Homo sapiens: one gene and its partners. The protein of the gene in region 1 purifies or fractionates together with the protein of each later gene. This does not show direct contact. Each region holds a gene or a part of one and is shown on either strand. Other genes may lie near its edges.

The links. The genes of interacting proteins can lie anywhere in the genome.
Region 2: the proteins of PRPS2 (region 1) and ALG13 purify together in Homo sapiens (affinity purification with mass spectrometry; one large-scale study listed by BioGRID and IntAct). This does not show direct contact.
Region 3: the proteins of PRPS2 (region 1) and YY1AP1 purify together in Homo sapiens (affinity purification with mass spectrometry; one large-scale study listed by BioGRID and IntAct). This does not show direct contact.
Region 4: the proteins of PRPS2 (region 1) and SMCHD1 purify together in Homo sapiens (affinity purification with mass spectrometry; one large-scale study listed by BioGRID and IntAct). This does not show direct contact.

The regions. Positions count from the first base shown.
Region 1 is NC_000023.11:12,815,412-12,818,911, reverse strand, and holds part of PRPS2 (ribose-phosphate pyrophosphokinase 2), read right to left. Parts: intron 1-3,500. UniProt on the Homo sapiens protein: Catalyzes the synthesis of phosphoribosylpyrophosphate (PRPP) that is essential for nucleotide synthesis.
Region 2 is NC_000023.11:111,729,670-111,733,169, reverse strand, and holds part of ALG13 (UDP-N-acetylglucosamine transferase subunit ALG13), read right to left. Parts: intron 2,776-3,500; coding exon 2,743-2,775; intron 2,646-2,742; coding exon 2,590-2,645; intron 1-2,589. UniProt on the Homo sapiens protein: Catalytic subunit of the UDP-N-acetylglucosamine transferase complex that operates in the biosynthetic pathway of dolichol-linked oligosaccharides, the glycan precursors employed in protein asparagine (N)-glycosylation.
Region 3 is NC_000001.11:155,664,775-155,668,274, forward strand, and holds part of YY1AP1 (YY1-associated protein 1), read right to left. Parts: intron 1-3,500. UniProt on the Homo sapiens protein: Associates with the INO80 chromatin remodeling complex, which is responsible for transcriptional regulation, DNA repair, and replication. Enhances transcription activation by YY1. Plays a role in cell cycle regulation.
Region 4 is NC_000018.10:2,654,324-2,658,525, reverse strand, and holds the start of SMCHD1 (structural maintenance of chromosomes flexible hinge domain-containing protein 1), read right to left. Parts: upstream 2,801-4,202; 5' UTR 2,451-2,800; coding exon 2,265-2,450; intron 1-2,264. UniProt on the Homo sapiens protein: Non-canonical member of the structural maintenance of chromosomes (SMC) protein family that plays a key role in epigenetic silencing by regulating chromatin architecture.

The DNA of each region.
Region 1 (3,500 bases):
CAGCCTGGACAACATAGCAAGATCCCATCTCTTTAAAAAAAAAAATCACTAGCTCAGGAGGAGCTGAGCTGCCAACAGGAAGAGAAAGTGGGCAGGCCTCGCTTGCTGGTGAGCCTGGGGCATTTCAGATTTTCCTGTGAAGAGTGGATTTAAATGGTGAAACTTATTTCAAGACAATGCCACAGGTATAATGTAACATTAAGATTTTCCTTTTCCAGTTTTTAAAATAACAGTCATTATGCAATTTAGCTGAAAAAATGCTTTGGGGACCAATACACACATGGCCCAACTTAAGACGCAGTACATGGAGGATATAACCTCCACACACTAGTTTTAAAGTCCTAGTCCTACTCATTGTGTCATCCTCAGATGACGACCAGGAATGGAGCTCCTCGCGTGCTCTGATGAAGGACAGAGGGGACACTCTCTGGGGCTGAGAAGGCAGTGGGAAGGGCAGTTAGGTGCTCCAGGCTCCCCTCCCTATTTCTGAGGATTTTCACAACACAACCAGTGTTTCTTTTCTTTTCTTTTTTTTTTTTTTTTTTGAGACAGTTTCACTCTTGTTGACCAGGCTGGAGTGCAATGGCACAATCTCGGCTCACTGCAACCTCTGCCTCCTGGGTTCAAGTGATTCTCCTGCCTCGGCCTCCTGAGTAGCTGGGGTGATAGGCATGCACCACCACTCCTGGCTAATTTTGTATTTTTAGTAGAGACAGGGTTTCTCCATGTTGGCCAGGCTGGTCTCGAACTCCTGACCTCAGGTGATCCGCCCACCTCAGCTTCCCAAAGTGCTGGGATTACGGACATGAGCCACTGTGCCCAGCCAGTGTTTCTTTTCAATTGTGGTAAAATATACATAACACAGAATTTATCCTTGGAGCCATTTTAAAGTGTATTAATTCAATGGCATCAAGTACATTCACAACATTGCACAACTATTATCTCTGTCTAGTTCCAGAACATTTCATGATATCAAAAGGAAACCCCACACCCCTTAAGCAGGCACTCCCTATTCTCCCCTCCCCCCAGGCCCTGCCAAGCATGAATCTATTTTCTGTCTCTATTCTGAACTTTTTGTATAAATGGAATCATAAAATACGTGCATTTTTGTGTCTGGCCTCTTTCAATTAGCATAAACTGTTCATAGTCCATCCACACGGCTGCATAGATGAGTACTTCATCTCTCTTTAAGTCTGAATAACATTCCATTGGGTGGATACAGCGCATTGCGTTCATCCATTCATCTGTTCATGGCCACTCAGGTTGGTTCCACCTTTTGGCTATACTGAATACTGCCGCTATGAACACTGGTGTATAAGTATCTGTTTGAGTCCCTGTCTTCAAGTCTTTGGGGAATATACCTCAGAGTGGAATTGCTGGGTCATATGGTAACTCTGTATAACCTATTCGGCTAATATTTCCTTTTTTTTTTTTTTTTTTTTTATGAGGAACATCTTTTATTTCTTGTAAAGAGGGGAAAATAAGATTTTTTAATATTTCTCACTCATAAGATTTTTAAACTCTTAAAAATGCAATATCCTCTTTTCAAAGCACATGCCATCTTAAAAAAATCTTAGCAATGTACATTTGCACTCAAAGAAAAACATGGCAGCACCACTGTCTTCTGACAAAATTCTGCATAAAAAAACCCTATGCAACTTTTTGCAAATATGTTCCTTCTTTATTATTCAGGGACACCAAACCACAAACATTCAGTGCAATATTTATTGTTTTTTATTTCCGTAGGAAACACAGGACCAATGATGTCTTCTGACAACTGTTTCCTGATGATTTGTTGGGTTTATTGGATCTGAGGATCCTCGGATCCAATAAACCCAACAAATGAATTCCCAAACAATCTTAACAAAACTATAGAAGACCAAGAAAGCTTAAAAGAGACAAAGAATAAAGACAAGTCACCTAGTAAGGATGGCCAAGTCCTCAACTTCCCCAATGGAAGCCAGAAGTTATGGAGTCATATCTTCAATGTGATATGAGAAAATAACTCTCAGGCTAGGAGTCTATACTCAGCAAAACTGCCTTTCCAGAAGGAGAGCAAAATAAAGATAGTTTCAGCCAAACTATACAACCTGAGAATTTATTTCTAACATATAACCACTTAAAGAATGCAACTTAAGCAAAAGGAAAATCACCACAGATACATTGAGATGTGGTGAGGGGCAGGGGCAGAGAAAGGTAAGCAAAGATATTGATCAATATGTGGACAAATCTAAACAAATGTTGATTGTACAAAACCAAAATAATAATAATGTCTACTTTGTGGAGAAGGAAAAACTAAAGCATATAGTAGCTAAGCATGGTGGCTCACACCTATAATCCCAGCATTTTGGGAGGCCGAGGCAGGCAGATCACTTGAGCCCAGGAATTGGAGACCAGCCTGGGCAACATAGTAAAACCCCATCTCTACAAAAAATACAAAAATTAGCCAGGCATGGTGGCATGCGCCTTTAGTTCCAGCTACTTGGGAGGCTAAGGTGGCAGGATTACTTGAGCCTGGGAGATCGGGGGCTGCAGTGAGCTGTGATCGCGCCACTACACTCCAGCCTGGGCAACAGAGCAAGACTCTGTCTCAAAAACAAAAAAACCACATAGTAAGGTGGTGGTCATAAATCCAACTATGTCAATTATCATAAAAGAAAAGGGACCAAACTTTCCAGTTAAACACAGAGACTGTGAGATAAGAGAATAAGACATCAACGTCCTTGAAGCAAAGGGAATCATTACTATATTGAGGTCCATGTTTCTCCTACCCTTAGAACACTCATCCTACCCTTAAAACACTCATTCTTCAGGATGCAACCAAAACCACAGTAGCCCTAGCAGATACCCTTTGTTTGTAAACTTGTCTAGCTGTCAACAGTTTCCTTACTTAAAGATTTAATTAAAAAAATTAATTTAAAGGCCAACAAAAATTTTGCTCCATCATCACCTTAAAACACCTACAGTTCAGCCAGGCACGGTGGCTCACAGCTGTAATCCCAGCACTTTGGGAGGCCGAGGTGGGTGGATCACCTGAGGTTAGGAGTTCAAGATGAGCCTGGCCAACATGGTGAAACTCCATCTCTACAAAAATACAAAAAGTAGCCGGGCATGATGGTGGCTGCCTGTAACCCCAGCTACTTGGGAGGCTGAGGCGGGAGAATCGCTTGATCCCGGGAGGTGGAGGTTGCAGTGAGCCAAGATCACGCCATTGCACTCCAGCCTGGGCGACTGAGCGAGACTCCATCTCAAAAAACAAACAAACAAAAAAACACGTACAGTTCTATTATCTACATGCCAATGTCATAAAAGCCACTCAAACTCCAGGTAAGGAAAGCTACTTTCTGGGAACATGAGACAGGTTTTCCCAAGACACATGAACACCTCGCACAAAATGTCCACATACATTACCGTCTGCTTATTTGGTAACGACTAGGCAGATTTGGGCATGACAGGATACCAATCCACAGCCCAGCACTGGGAAGCACTGCCCTTTGTGG
Region 2 (3,500 bases), about 99 Mb from region 1:
GTTCTCCAAAAAACCTATTGAAATTAAAAATTAAAGACAAAGAGTTTTTTTTTAATGTATGCTGATAATTCTGAAGACATTTATCCTTTATTTTAGCAACAATAGAAATTTGCTATGGATTTGGTGATGGGGGCAGAGGGCTTGGAACATATGAAGAGATTGAAAGCTATTGAGGTTGTTTAAATTCAGAACAAAAAGGAACATGTGACAAGTGAAATTGAAGGAACAGAAAAAAAGTATTCTTGTCATCCCTTGTGGTAAGATTCTTACTTGGCTACTTCAAGAGGTGATATCAAAAGCACATGATATGAGAATAGTAATGGTGGCAGGAAATGGGGGAAAAAACTTTCTCTGGAAGGAGCAAAGTAAGGGAAGGAGAAAGAACAGAAAGAGAATTACGTATCAGAGTTTTCTTCTCCTTCCTAAGGTATATTGTCTAAACAGTAAAAACAAAAATTTAGTACATGAAGCTGCCACAGTTTAGTCATAATTAGAGAATATAAGGTAGTTATTCAAGTTCTTCATAAATATTCCAGATTTCCTGAATAGATGGTAGGATTGCCCTTCCCAGCTCCATCCAAAGTCAAGAATGACCATGTTACTTGGTCAATAAAATATGACCAGAAATGTCAGTGTTCAATTTCTGTATCTTTTGCCCTGCTGTGATGATCATGATGGCATGTGTCCATCAGCCTGGGTCCCTGGGTGACTATGAAGAACAGTCATAGTCTGGCAGCCTGCTGCCAACTCGCATTGAACTATATAACATTAGCAAGAACAACTTTTCCTGAGTTAAGCCACTGAGATTTTGGGGGGTTGTTAACTGCAGCATAACCTAGCTTGACTAAAACAGAAATTGGTAACTAGAAGTAGGGTACGGCTATAACAAAATCCTAATTGAGAAGGAGATTATGAACATGTAGCTCTTAGGGTAAGCAATTTAGAAGACATGATGTTAGTATTGTGCTTTGATAACTGTTGGCATTGTCTAAAGCAAGTTATTTTAAGACAGGTGTATGTAGGAGAGAATTAGTAGTTTGCAGGCAGGAATGAAAGGGAATAGATTCCTTGCATACAGGGACTCACAGGGTTGAAGGAACAACTGTTTCAACCCTAAACTATAAAAGGTAATATTGATGAATGGTTTGAACAACGACAAACAGTGAAAACTCGACCTCGCAGCAAGAATGAACTCTTTGGTTAAAACCCGAGTGTATTAAGATGTCTCAAAGCTAGAGTTCAACTAAGGATGTAACACCTAGTAAATCCTTGCACTTCAACAAAATGGCTTGTAGAAAAATGTCCAAAATGCATGGCTCTTCCATCAGTGCCTGATAAACTCAAGCCACTTGCAATCAAATAGACAGAAATATAAGGATAAAACCACAAAGAATTATAGCAAATCTTAGTAGTATATCTATAGAAAAGAACTGTAGTATGGCTATTGGTACATGAAACCAAAAGAAATCAAACAGAAGCAGAATAAATTAATCTTACAGCCAAAGAAATCACGAGCCAGAACTAAAACCATTCAACTGAGATAAAACCACCCTTGGGCCTCCAATCTTCTGTAAGTAGCAAGCTTAGAAAGCTGCTCGGTTGCCAAGGAAGGATTATTCTCCAATGCCTACTCCAAACACTGCCAAGGAAGGATGGGCCTTGGGAGTAACCAAGAGCCCCAGAAAATGAACGAGAGTTCCTCCAGGGAAGAGTCCCATGAGTATGTTGGGGGCCCTTACAACGTCTGCCCATGAAGGTCTCAGAATTGCTACAGGCCAATAACTGTTTTTTTCTCCCTTTATGAATAGAAATTTCAGTCCCTGCTTCAGCACTGTAAACTGGGGAGGGAGGGGGAAAAAATAAAACCTCTGTATTTTTGGTTTTAAGTCTCAAGATCACAAGAAGCTACATCTGGACCCAATATAACAAGTACTACACATAGCCCAGAAATCCTAGGCTTTGAGTTTGATTACACTGAATGGGACATTTTAGGATGCCTCCTTTGAGACAGAAACAAGTATTCTGCCTATGAGAGGGAGGGCAAGTTGAATGATATAGTTCTTAGCGCTGTTAACATGTTTCTTTTTGCCTTCCAGCACAGAAAAGTTAAGACTCTTCAGTGGGACCTGCTCTGGCCAGTGAAATGGAAAAGAAAGTGACATGTATCACCTCTAGTGGAAACTCTAAGAGCCAGTGCACCATTTACCGAATTTTATTTCCTGCCTTGGCAATTGTGGATGAATTTCCATCAGCCTAAGTACCTGAGCAAGCCCTTCTACAGACCTCTACTAGACATGTAGCATAAAGGAGAAGCAAACTTTTGTTATATTGAGTGAGATGTATCATCCATTCTAATAAAAAAATCATAATAAAACCTTCTAAAAGATCATTACTGCCTATGTTAGAATATCTCTAAATATATTAGTTCCAGAACACGAGTTAATTTCTGTCTCAATTTCATCTTCAAAATGAGAATGATACTAAGCCTCACAGGGTTGTTCTGATTTAAATACATTTATATGTATAGCTCTTAACAGTGCCCTAGTACATAGTAGGAGCTATAACTCTTTGCTATTATTAAATACCTACCAAGTTTGCTGTAGATGCAGTTGTGCTATAAACACCTGAAGTTTCATAGTCTGGCTCTAGAGAATATAGCCAAAGTAAAAAATGAGCATTATTTTATAGCTTGAAATTCTATAAACAATGATGAATGCCAGATCACTTCTAGATCTTACTGACCTGCACGATAAAGATATTCTTCATGATATCGCCCTGGGGAAAAAAGACAAGACAGAAGAAATGTGTTTATATAGGTCTTTTTAGCTCAGCAGAGCCAAATGGCCAGCACTTGCTTTTTCCACCAGTTTTATGGTTATATGTTCAAAACTAAAATGCATACATCCTGAAAAGTGATATGAGCTTTCACACTAGTCAACAGATATTGAAGCCACAGACTAGCTGTAAGCTGTACAAATTTCTCCTCTGAAAATCCACTTAGCTCTTAGAGGTCAGGCAGAAGTGAAAACTCAGTTGTGTCCAATTTTTCCAGTGAGGCTACAGTGTGGTGATTAAGCACATAGGCTCTGGAGTGAGGACTGCCTAGATTTGAATTCTGATTAACTACATGACTTTAGGCAAGTTATTTAATCTCTGTGCCTCAATTCTTCACTGTAAAATGGAGTAACAGTACCTAGCTCATAGGCCTTTTGAGGATGGTTAATGGAAGTGAAAGTAACTTAGCATAGTGCTTTACACATACTAAATACTCAATGGTGTCTATAAAGTATGAGTATAATCCACTGTTTCCTTAGGTGGACATTAAGGGAACATGTATGCCTCATCTGTTTTTCAATCTGTTTCATGTAAGTAATACATGTAAAATGAGTGTGTCCTCAAAGGATGGCTCAGTAGACTGAAGTACTTTTAAGATTTCTGTACCACTGAAATGCAGAGAAAGTCAATACTCAATCGGACAGTTTTCCACCAAATATAAACCC
Region 3 (3,500 bases), on another chromosome or scaffold:
TTTTTTTTTTTTTAATACGGAGTCTCGCTCTGTCACCCAGGCTGGAGTGTAGTGGCGAGATCTCGGCTCACTGCAAGCTCCACCTCCCAGGTTCACGCCATTCTCCTGCCTCAGCCTCCAGAGTACCTGGGACTACAGACGCCCGCCACCACACCCGGCTAATTTTTTTGTACTTTTAGTAGAGACGGGGTTTCACCACATTAGCCAGGATGGTCTCGATTTCCCGACCTCGTGATCCACCCGCCTCAGCCTCCCAAAGTGCTGGGATTACAGGCGTGAGCCACTGCGCCCGGCCCCGGAGATGGTTTAAATGTGAAAATTCCCTTCCCAAGCACTCTCCCTCAGGATGCTACTGGAATGGGGCCATGCAGGGTGGCTCATGCCTATAATCTCAGCACTTTGGGATGCTGAAGCAGGAGGATCACTTGAACCCAGGAGTCTGAGACCAGCCTGGGCAAAAAACTGAGACCCCCCCACCTCAATTTTTTAAAATTCAGAAAAAAATTTTTTTTAAAAAAAAGCTACTAGAATGTGTTCCACTAAAGTAAAGAAGTAATACTCACGCCTGTAATCCCAGCACTTTGGGAGACCGAAACGGGTGGATCAAGAGGTCAGGAGATCAAAACCATCCTGGCTAACATGGTGAAACCCTGTCTCTACTAAAAATACAAAAAATTAGCCAGGCGTAGTGGCATGTGCCTATAATCCCAGCTACTCGGGAGGCTGAGGCAGGAGAATTGCTTGAACCCGGGAGGCGGACGTTGCAGTGAGCCAAGATCATCGCGCCTTTGGACTCCAGCCTGGGCAACAAAGCGAGACTCGGTCTCAAAAAAAAGCAAAACAAAACAAAAAACAAGGCCAGGCGTGGTGTCTCACGCCTGTAATCCCCGCACTCTGGGAGGCTGAGGTGGGTGGATCCCCTGAGGTCAGGAGTTCAAGACCAAGACCAAGGTTGCAGGTTGCAGTGAGCCGAGATCCAGCCTGGGGGACAGAGCAAGACTCTGTGTCTCAAAAAAAAAAAAAAAAAAAAAAAAAGTAATGCAAAAGCAAAGATGTGGAATTCAGGAAATAAGAGGATCTAACACAGTATGAGGCAAAAGGAATTCCTGGGATGATGGTGAAGAAAAAGCCCAAGAAGACATCAGTGCAGCAACATGGAGAGCAACACGCTTAAAGTGGAATAATGTCAGAGGGCTCAGGGAGCAATTTCTTCAAGATGAAAGTGACAGAATATCTAGAATACCTGAACACACTGAAAGAAGATGATCTGGGAAACAAAATGTTCAGCAGGAAAGGCAAGGTAACACAGTAACATAGCTGAGCTGTGAAGAGCATTTATACAGTCCTTAAAATCTATTTTTTTTTTTTGAGACGGAGTCTTGCTCTGGCAAGACTGGAGTGCAGTGGCGCGATCTCGGCTCACTGCAAGCTCCACCTCCCGGGTTCACACCATTCTCCTGCCTCAGCCTCCCGAGTAGCTGGGACTACAGGCGCCCGCCACCACGCCCAGCCAGTTTTTTGTATTTTTAGTAGAGCTGGGGTTTCACCATGTTAGCCAGGATGGTCTCGATTTCCTGACCTCGTTATCCACCTGCCTTGGCCTCCCAAAGTGCTGGGATTACAGGCGTGAGCCACCGCGCCCAGCCAACAGTCCTTAAAATCTTACAATGTAAACCCTGAATACAATCTAACCAAAATTCTACCATAACTACTAGTGAGGAGTTTGGAGAGCAGAAAATGTGCATGTTTGTGGTGGGAGTAAGGGAGTGAGGAGAGAGGTAAATCTTCGGCTTCCGTGGTTTATGGTTAATAAGTAAGGCCTAAATCCAATACACCAGGCAGTACCAATTAGAGGCTGAGACAGGAGAATTGCCTAAGGCCAAAAATTGAAGACCAGCCTGGGCAATATAGGGACACCCCATCCCTAAAAAAAAAAAGTTTTTTGCCAGGCACAGAGGCTCACGCCTATAATTCCAGCACTTTGGGAGGCCGAGGTGGGCAGATCACCTGAGATCAGGAGTTCAAGATCAGACTGACCAACATGGTGAAATTATGTTTCTACTAAAAATATAAAAATTAGCCAGGTGTGGTGGCGCATGCCTGTAGTCCCAGCTACTTAGGAGGCTAAGGCATGAAAATTGCTTGAACCCGGTAGGTGGAGGTTGCAGTGAGCTAAAATTGTGCCACTGCACTCCAGCCTGGGTGACAGAGACAGATTCTGTCTCAAAAAAATAAAATAAAATAAATAAATAAATAAATTTAATGGCCAAGCACAGTGGCTAATGCATATAATCCCAGCTCCTTGGGAGGCTGACGTTGGAAGAATGCTTGAGCCTAGGAGTTCAAGGCTGCAGTGAGCTATGACTATACCACTGTACTCCAGCCTAGGCAGGAGAGTAAGACCTTGTCTCAAGAAAAATACAAAAACACAATGAAACCAAAGGCTGGGCATCATGGCTCACGCCTGTAATCCCAACACTCTGGGAGGCCGAGCTGAGGCAAGAGGACTGCTTGAGGTCAGGACTTCAAGACCAGCCTGGGAAACAAAATGACACCCTGTCTTCACACAAAATAAAATAATCGGCTAGCCTTGGTGGCATGCACCTGTAGTCCAAGCTACTTGGAAGGCTGAAGTGGAAGGATCACCCAGGAATTTGAGGTTGCAGTGACCTATGATTGTGCCCATGCACTCCAGCCAGGATGACAGAGTGAGAACCTGTCTCTAAAAAAAAAAAAAAACATAAATAAATATCTAAATAAAAAAGAAGGCTGGGGGCAATGGCTCACATTTGTAATCCCAGCACTTAGGGAGGCCGAGGCAGATGGATCACCTGAGGTCAGGAGTTCGAGACCAGCCTGGCCAACATGGTGAAACCCCGACTCTACTAAATACAAAAATCAGCTGGGCATGGTGGCAGGGGCCTGTAATCCCAGCTACAAGGGAGGCTGAGGCAGGAGAATCACTTGAACCCAGGAGGCAGAGGTTGCAGTCAGCCAAGATCGCACCATTGCACTCCAGCCTGGGGGTCAAGAGCGAGACTCCATCTCAATCAATCAATCAATAAGTAAAAAGAGTTGAGAAAAAGTATATAGGCTGGGCCTGGGCGACAAGAGCGAAACTCCATCTCAATACATACATACATACATACATACATACATACAGACACAGACACACACAAACACACACACACACACACACACACATACATGCATACATACAAACACAAAATTGAGAAAAAGTATATAGGCTGGGCACGGTGGCTTATGCCTGCAATCCTAGCCTCTGGGAAGCCAAAACTGGTGGATCACTTGAGGTCAGAAGTTCAAGACCAGCCTGGCCAACATGGTGAAACCCGTATCTACTAAAAATACAAAAAATTAGCTGAGCGTGGTGGGCACGCCTGTAATCTCAGCTATTTGGGAGGCTGAGGCAGGAGAATCACTTGAACCCGGGAGGCGGAAGCTGCAGTGAGCCAAGATCATGCCACTATACTCCTGCA
Region 4 (4,202 bases), on another chromosome or scaffold:
CAGAATTAGTTAAAAGAAATATTTTCCTTGGTTTTCCAGTTGAAATATTGAAGGAAGGAATAAATACATCTGTTCCCTACAGCAAAGAATGCCATTTGAGTAGTATAACAGAATGAACAGAGGTTCTGGGTTTGAATACTAACTTGAGCTTTACTATCTGAGTAATGAGTCACCATTTCCACGACTGTGTTTATACTTCTGTAATAAAAGGCCAATAATACTTCCTCTATTTATCTAAGAGTTACTGAGACATCTCACGAGAGGGAAATAGTGCATTTCTAGAGGAAGGGTAAAGTAGCAAAACATTTTCAAAAAGCAATTTTAAAATACGAAACAAGAGCTTTAAAGATGTATCTCATCTTTGATCCAGTTCTAAGATTTCAAACTAAGCAAACAATAATAAAAGACATAAACGGCTATGTATTCAAAGATGTTTTTCCACTGGGTGCAGTGGCTCACGCCAGTAATCCCAGCACTTTGGGAGGCGGGTGGATCTCTTGAGCCCAGGAGCTCGAGACTAGCCTGGGCAACACAGCCAAACCCCCGTATGTACGAAAAATACGAAAAAAAAAAAACATAGCTGGGCATGGTGGCGCTCACCTGTAGTCCTGGCTACTTGGGAGGCTGAGGTGGGAGGATCACCTGAGCCCGGGAATATTTGGGCCTGGGAAAATGTTTATTACAGCATTACTTAAAATCAAAAAAATTAAAAGTAATGTAAATGTCAACAGAAAGGAGAGATTCGGTTATGTAAATAGTGGTAGCAAATGGACCATTTCAAATTTTGATTTGAAGACCTACGTTTAAAGAAACTTCTGACACTATTAAGTGAAAAAATTAATAGAATATAAAACACATATTTTAGTAATTTAAAAAATGGAGTGGGAAGGAGGAGGAAGGCTGAAAAGACATAACCTCAGGTGCTAAGAGTAGTCATATAGTAGTTTTACAGCGAGTAAAAGATTTACTTGTTTCCCCCCTCTGGTTCCATATTTTCTTTAATGTACTGATATTTTTACTATAAACACAATAAACGTAAAAAGTTTCCCTTTTGTAGAATGGTTCTGAATAGAAAGCATTCAACAAAAAAGATGAGCATTCATTCACTTTTCAAACACAACGGGAATCTACTACGTTCAGGCACAGAATTAACTTGAGGGGATAGGTTTTTGTCTTCATTCATTTATCCATTCTAATCTGGGCATTTACAATGTCGCAGGCACAGTTCTAGACGCTGGGACTACAGCTGTGAACAAAAGAAAGTCCTTACTTCTCCAATCGTTTTCATTCTACGGATCACGATTTCAATTATTTCAGCAACCATACAGTTATATGGTCTAGAACATTTCTAAACCTATCAGCCTCACGACAAAACACGGCTTCAAAGTTCTTTTTTTCCCTTGGACGCTAAGTGTTCTTAACAGCTTAAAAAGGGACCTCATATGGTTAATTCAGAGCATGACAATATTCCTTCTTCAAAGCTCAGGCAATGCCACCACCTCATATCTATAAAGTACATCACAGTTTAAAGCGGATTTCCCTCCACGTTCATTTTCAAAGCGAACCAATACACGGGGTAGGTACGTTTTCTGGTGCTCCACAGCCACCCATACCAACCTTTGACTTGGTTTGGAAATTCCCAAGGGTTAGGGCTCAGACAGGCAGAAGGCCAGCTCTACCTGCAGAGCTGACCTGGACAAGTGTCTCCGTGCGGAAGGATCCCCCCCGCCGCCCCGCCCCAGAAGGACCTGCAACCTCGACAGGGCAACCCGGGGACACCCCGCATCATCTAATGAACTTGGGGGAGATGACTCCGGGCATTTCACAACTTCCCACCGTCGCAACACTCACAACAGAGCCCCTGGGCGTTAACTCCCTTCTCTCGTTTTAAAAAAGTTACAAAGTAAAAACAGACACCACCAACGGCTTTCCCTAGACTGCAGGGCCGCAACCGGGCTAAGCTCGCCCAGGGCCAACAAACGCTGAGCTCTCCACCCGGGCCGGCAAGGCCTCCCGTAAAAGGAGCGGAGGCAGAGGGAGGGCCACGGGGGAGCCGGCCCTGCACTTCGAGGCCCGGGCCAGGGCCCGCCCGAGGCGTCCGGCCACCAGGTCACGGACATGGCGGGCACACGGGAGAGGGAAGCCAAGGCCGCAGGACCGGGACCGGGTGACAGGTTTATTGCCCTCAGTGAGCAAGTTGAGTTTCTCATCACCCTCCCGCCCCCAAGTCTACACGCGCATCCCTTCCTCGCCCCTTCGCGTACCTGACACACACACGCGCGAAATCCCGCGTAGTCCGAGCGCTCCCCGACCTGCAGAGGCCGGTCCCCGAGCTCGGACTCCTTTTCGCGCCGATCAAACAAGTACACCGTCCTGTGGCCGACGCCTCCGCCATCCTCCTCAGTCCCCACAGAGGCCCCACCAGGCCCGCCGCCGTCCGCCGCTGCCATATTGGGGAAAAGGAGAAAAGACAGCGACGCCTGCCGCCGCCGGGCTCAGGGCTGAGGTGCGCGCTCCGCGCGGCGCCTTCAGCTCCAGCTCCCGGGGCGGCTCGAGGCCTCGGCCCGGCGCGCTGCAGCTCCTCGTCAGCGGCGGCGGCCGAGCAGCGGCAGGCGCGAGGATCACCCGGGAACCGATTCAAACGCGCTCCTGCCCGTGCACCACGTCACTTCCGCGGCCCGCCACTCCTGAGGAGAAGGGGACGCGCGGCGCGCTCCTCACCGGGCCCGGGCCCAGCGCCTATCGCCGCCCACGCGAGCCTCACGGTGCGACCCGCGACCAGCGCCGCCGCCGGGACTGTGGCGCAGGAGGAAGAGCGGTGGCGGGTGGCGGGCGGCGGGCGACAGCGAGGGGCGGGGCGAATCCAGCAGGCCGCGCGGGCAGGGGCGGGGCTTCGCCGCGCGCGCGCCCGGGGCCCGCCCCCTCGGCCCTCGCGAAGTTGGAAGGAGGCTGAGTCTTTCGCGGCTGCCTGCGCCCTGCGGGTAGTCCTCAGAGGCCGAGGCGGGAGAGCAGGGCTCGGGGGCAGCGGGGGAATCTCCCGAAGAGCTGTGTTCTCTCTGTGGAAAGGGCCCCGCTGCCTTCCCGCCTCTCCAGGATCCCGACTGAGCTTGTAGGTGCCGCGCCGGCTGACTGAGCCCTCTCTGGCTGGGTCGCGTGGACGCGGCGGCGGGAAGCTTCAGGCCGGCGGTACTCGCCGGGCGCAGAGTCCACCAAAGCGAGCACGTGGGTCCCTCTGCCGAGAAAATAGGCGCTACGAGAGCCGGCGCCCCTTTTTCCTCCTCATTTCTTAGTAGTACTGGGTGGGCTCCAGCGTGGGCCCCCGAGGCAAAGCGGGTCCGTGAGAACGTCAGAAGGGCGCTCTGTGACGTCACAGCGTCCCCGCCCCCCGCACCCTCTGGGGGCCCTGGAGCGCCGACGGCATTCGGGGTACGGGGGTGACTCCAGCGCCCTAGTTTTAACGCTGCCTGCGCTTCGCGGTCTCCCACGTGCGTGTAAATTCTGAAAGAACCCACGCCACAGTTACTAGGGTTAAATTAGATGTTCGCAAAATTCTTAAGGCCTAATACGTTTTCAATCAAAGCCTTTAATCGTCGTTACCGGGCAGCGTTTCATTAACTATCCTCATCGTGGGCAGGTAGTGCCCTAACTCAACAAATAAAATGCCATTGTTAGAGGACTAGGTTTACTCTCCAGTTCTTAGAAATCGTGAATACTGTATACTTGAGAGTGGTATGTAAATTCAGAAACCCAAAGGTAGCAGATAGAGGGGTTTTTCAAATCTCAGAATATAAGCCTGGATAATAGTGCGTTTTCTGTTTTACTAGGTTTGCTAAAACCTTATATGGACAGACTTACAAAGTTAGTGTTATGTTAGAAACCTAGATTTGCTTGTGGATGTCAAGACGTTTCAAGATCGTGGGGAATGTGTGTATAAATTGACTACACATATACTAGAGGTAGACACCAACTAGAACGAAATTGTGAAGGCGTGTTTGGGGAACATACATTGTTTGGCTGGAAGTGAGGAGAACTGAGCGGTAGATGGTGGAAGATAAAATTGGAAAGACATAAACTGTGGCCAAATGCCGTTCATGTTCCTTAAGGTGGAGGTGGAGGAAAAGAAAACAAAAAAGTAACCCCCGATTCTAATGGAATTTCTTTGAAGTCTGATGTTTTATTTACCTTTCAAATTCATGCGAATG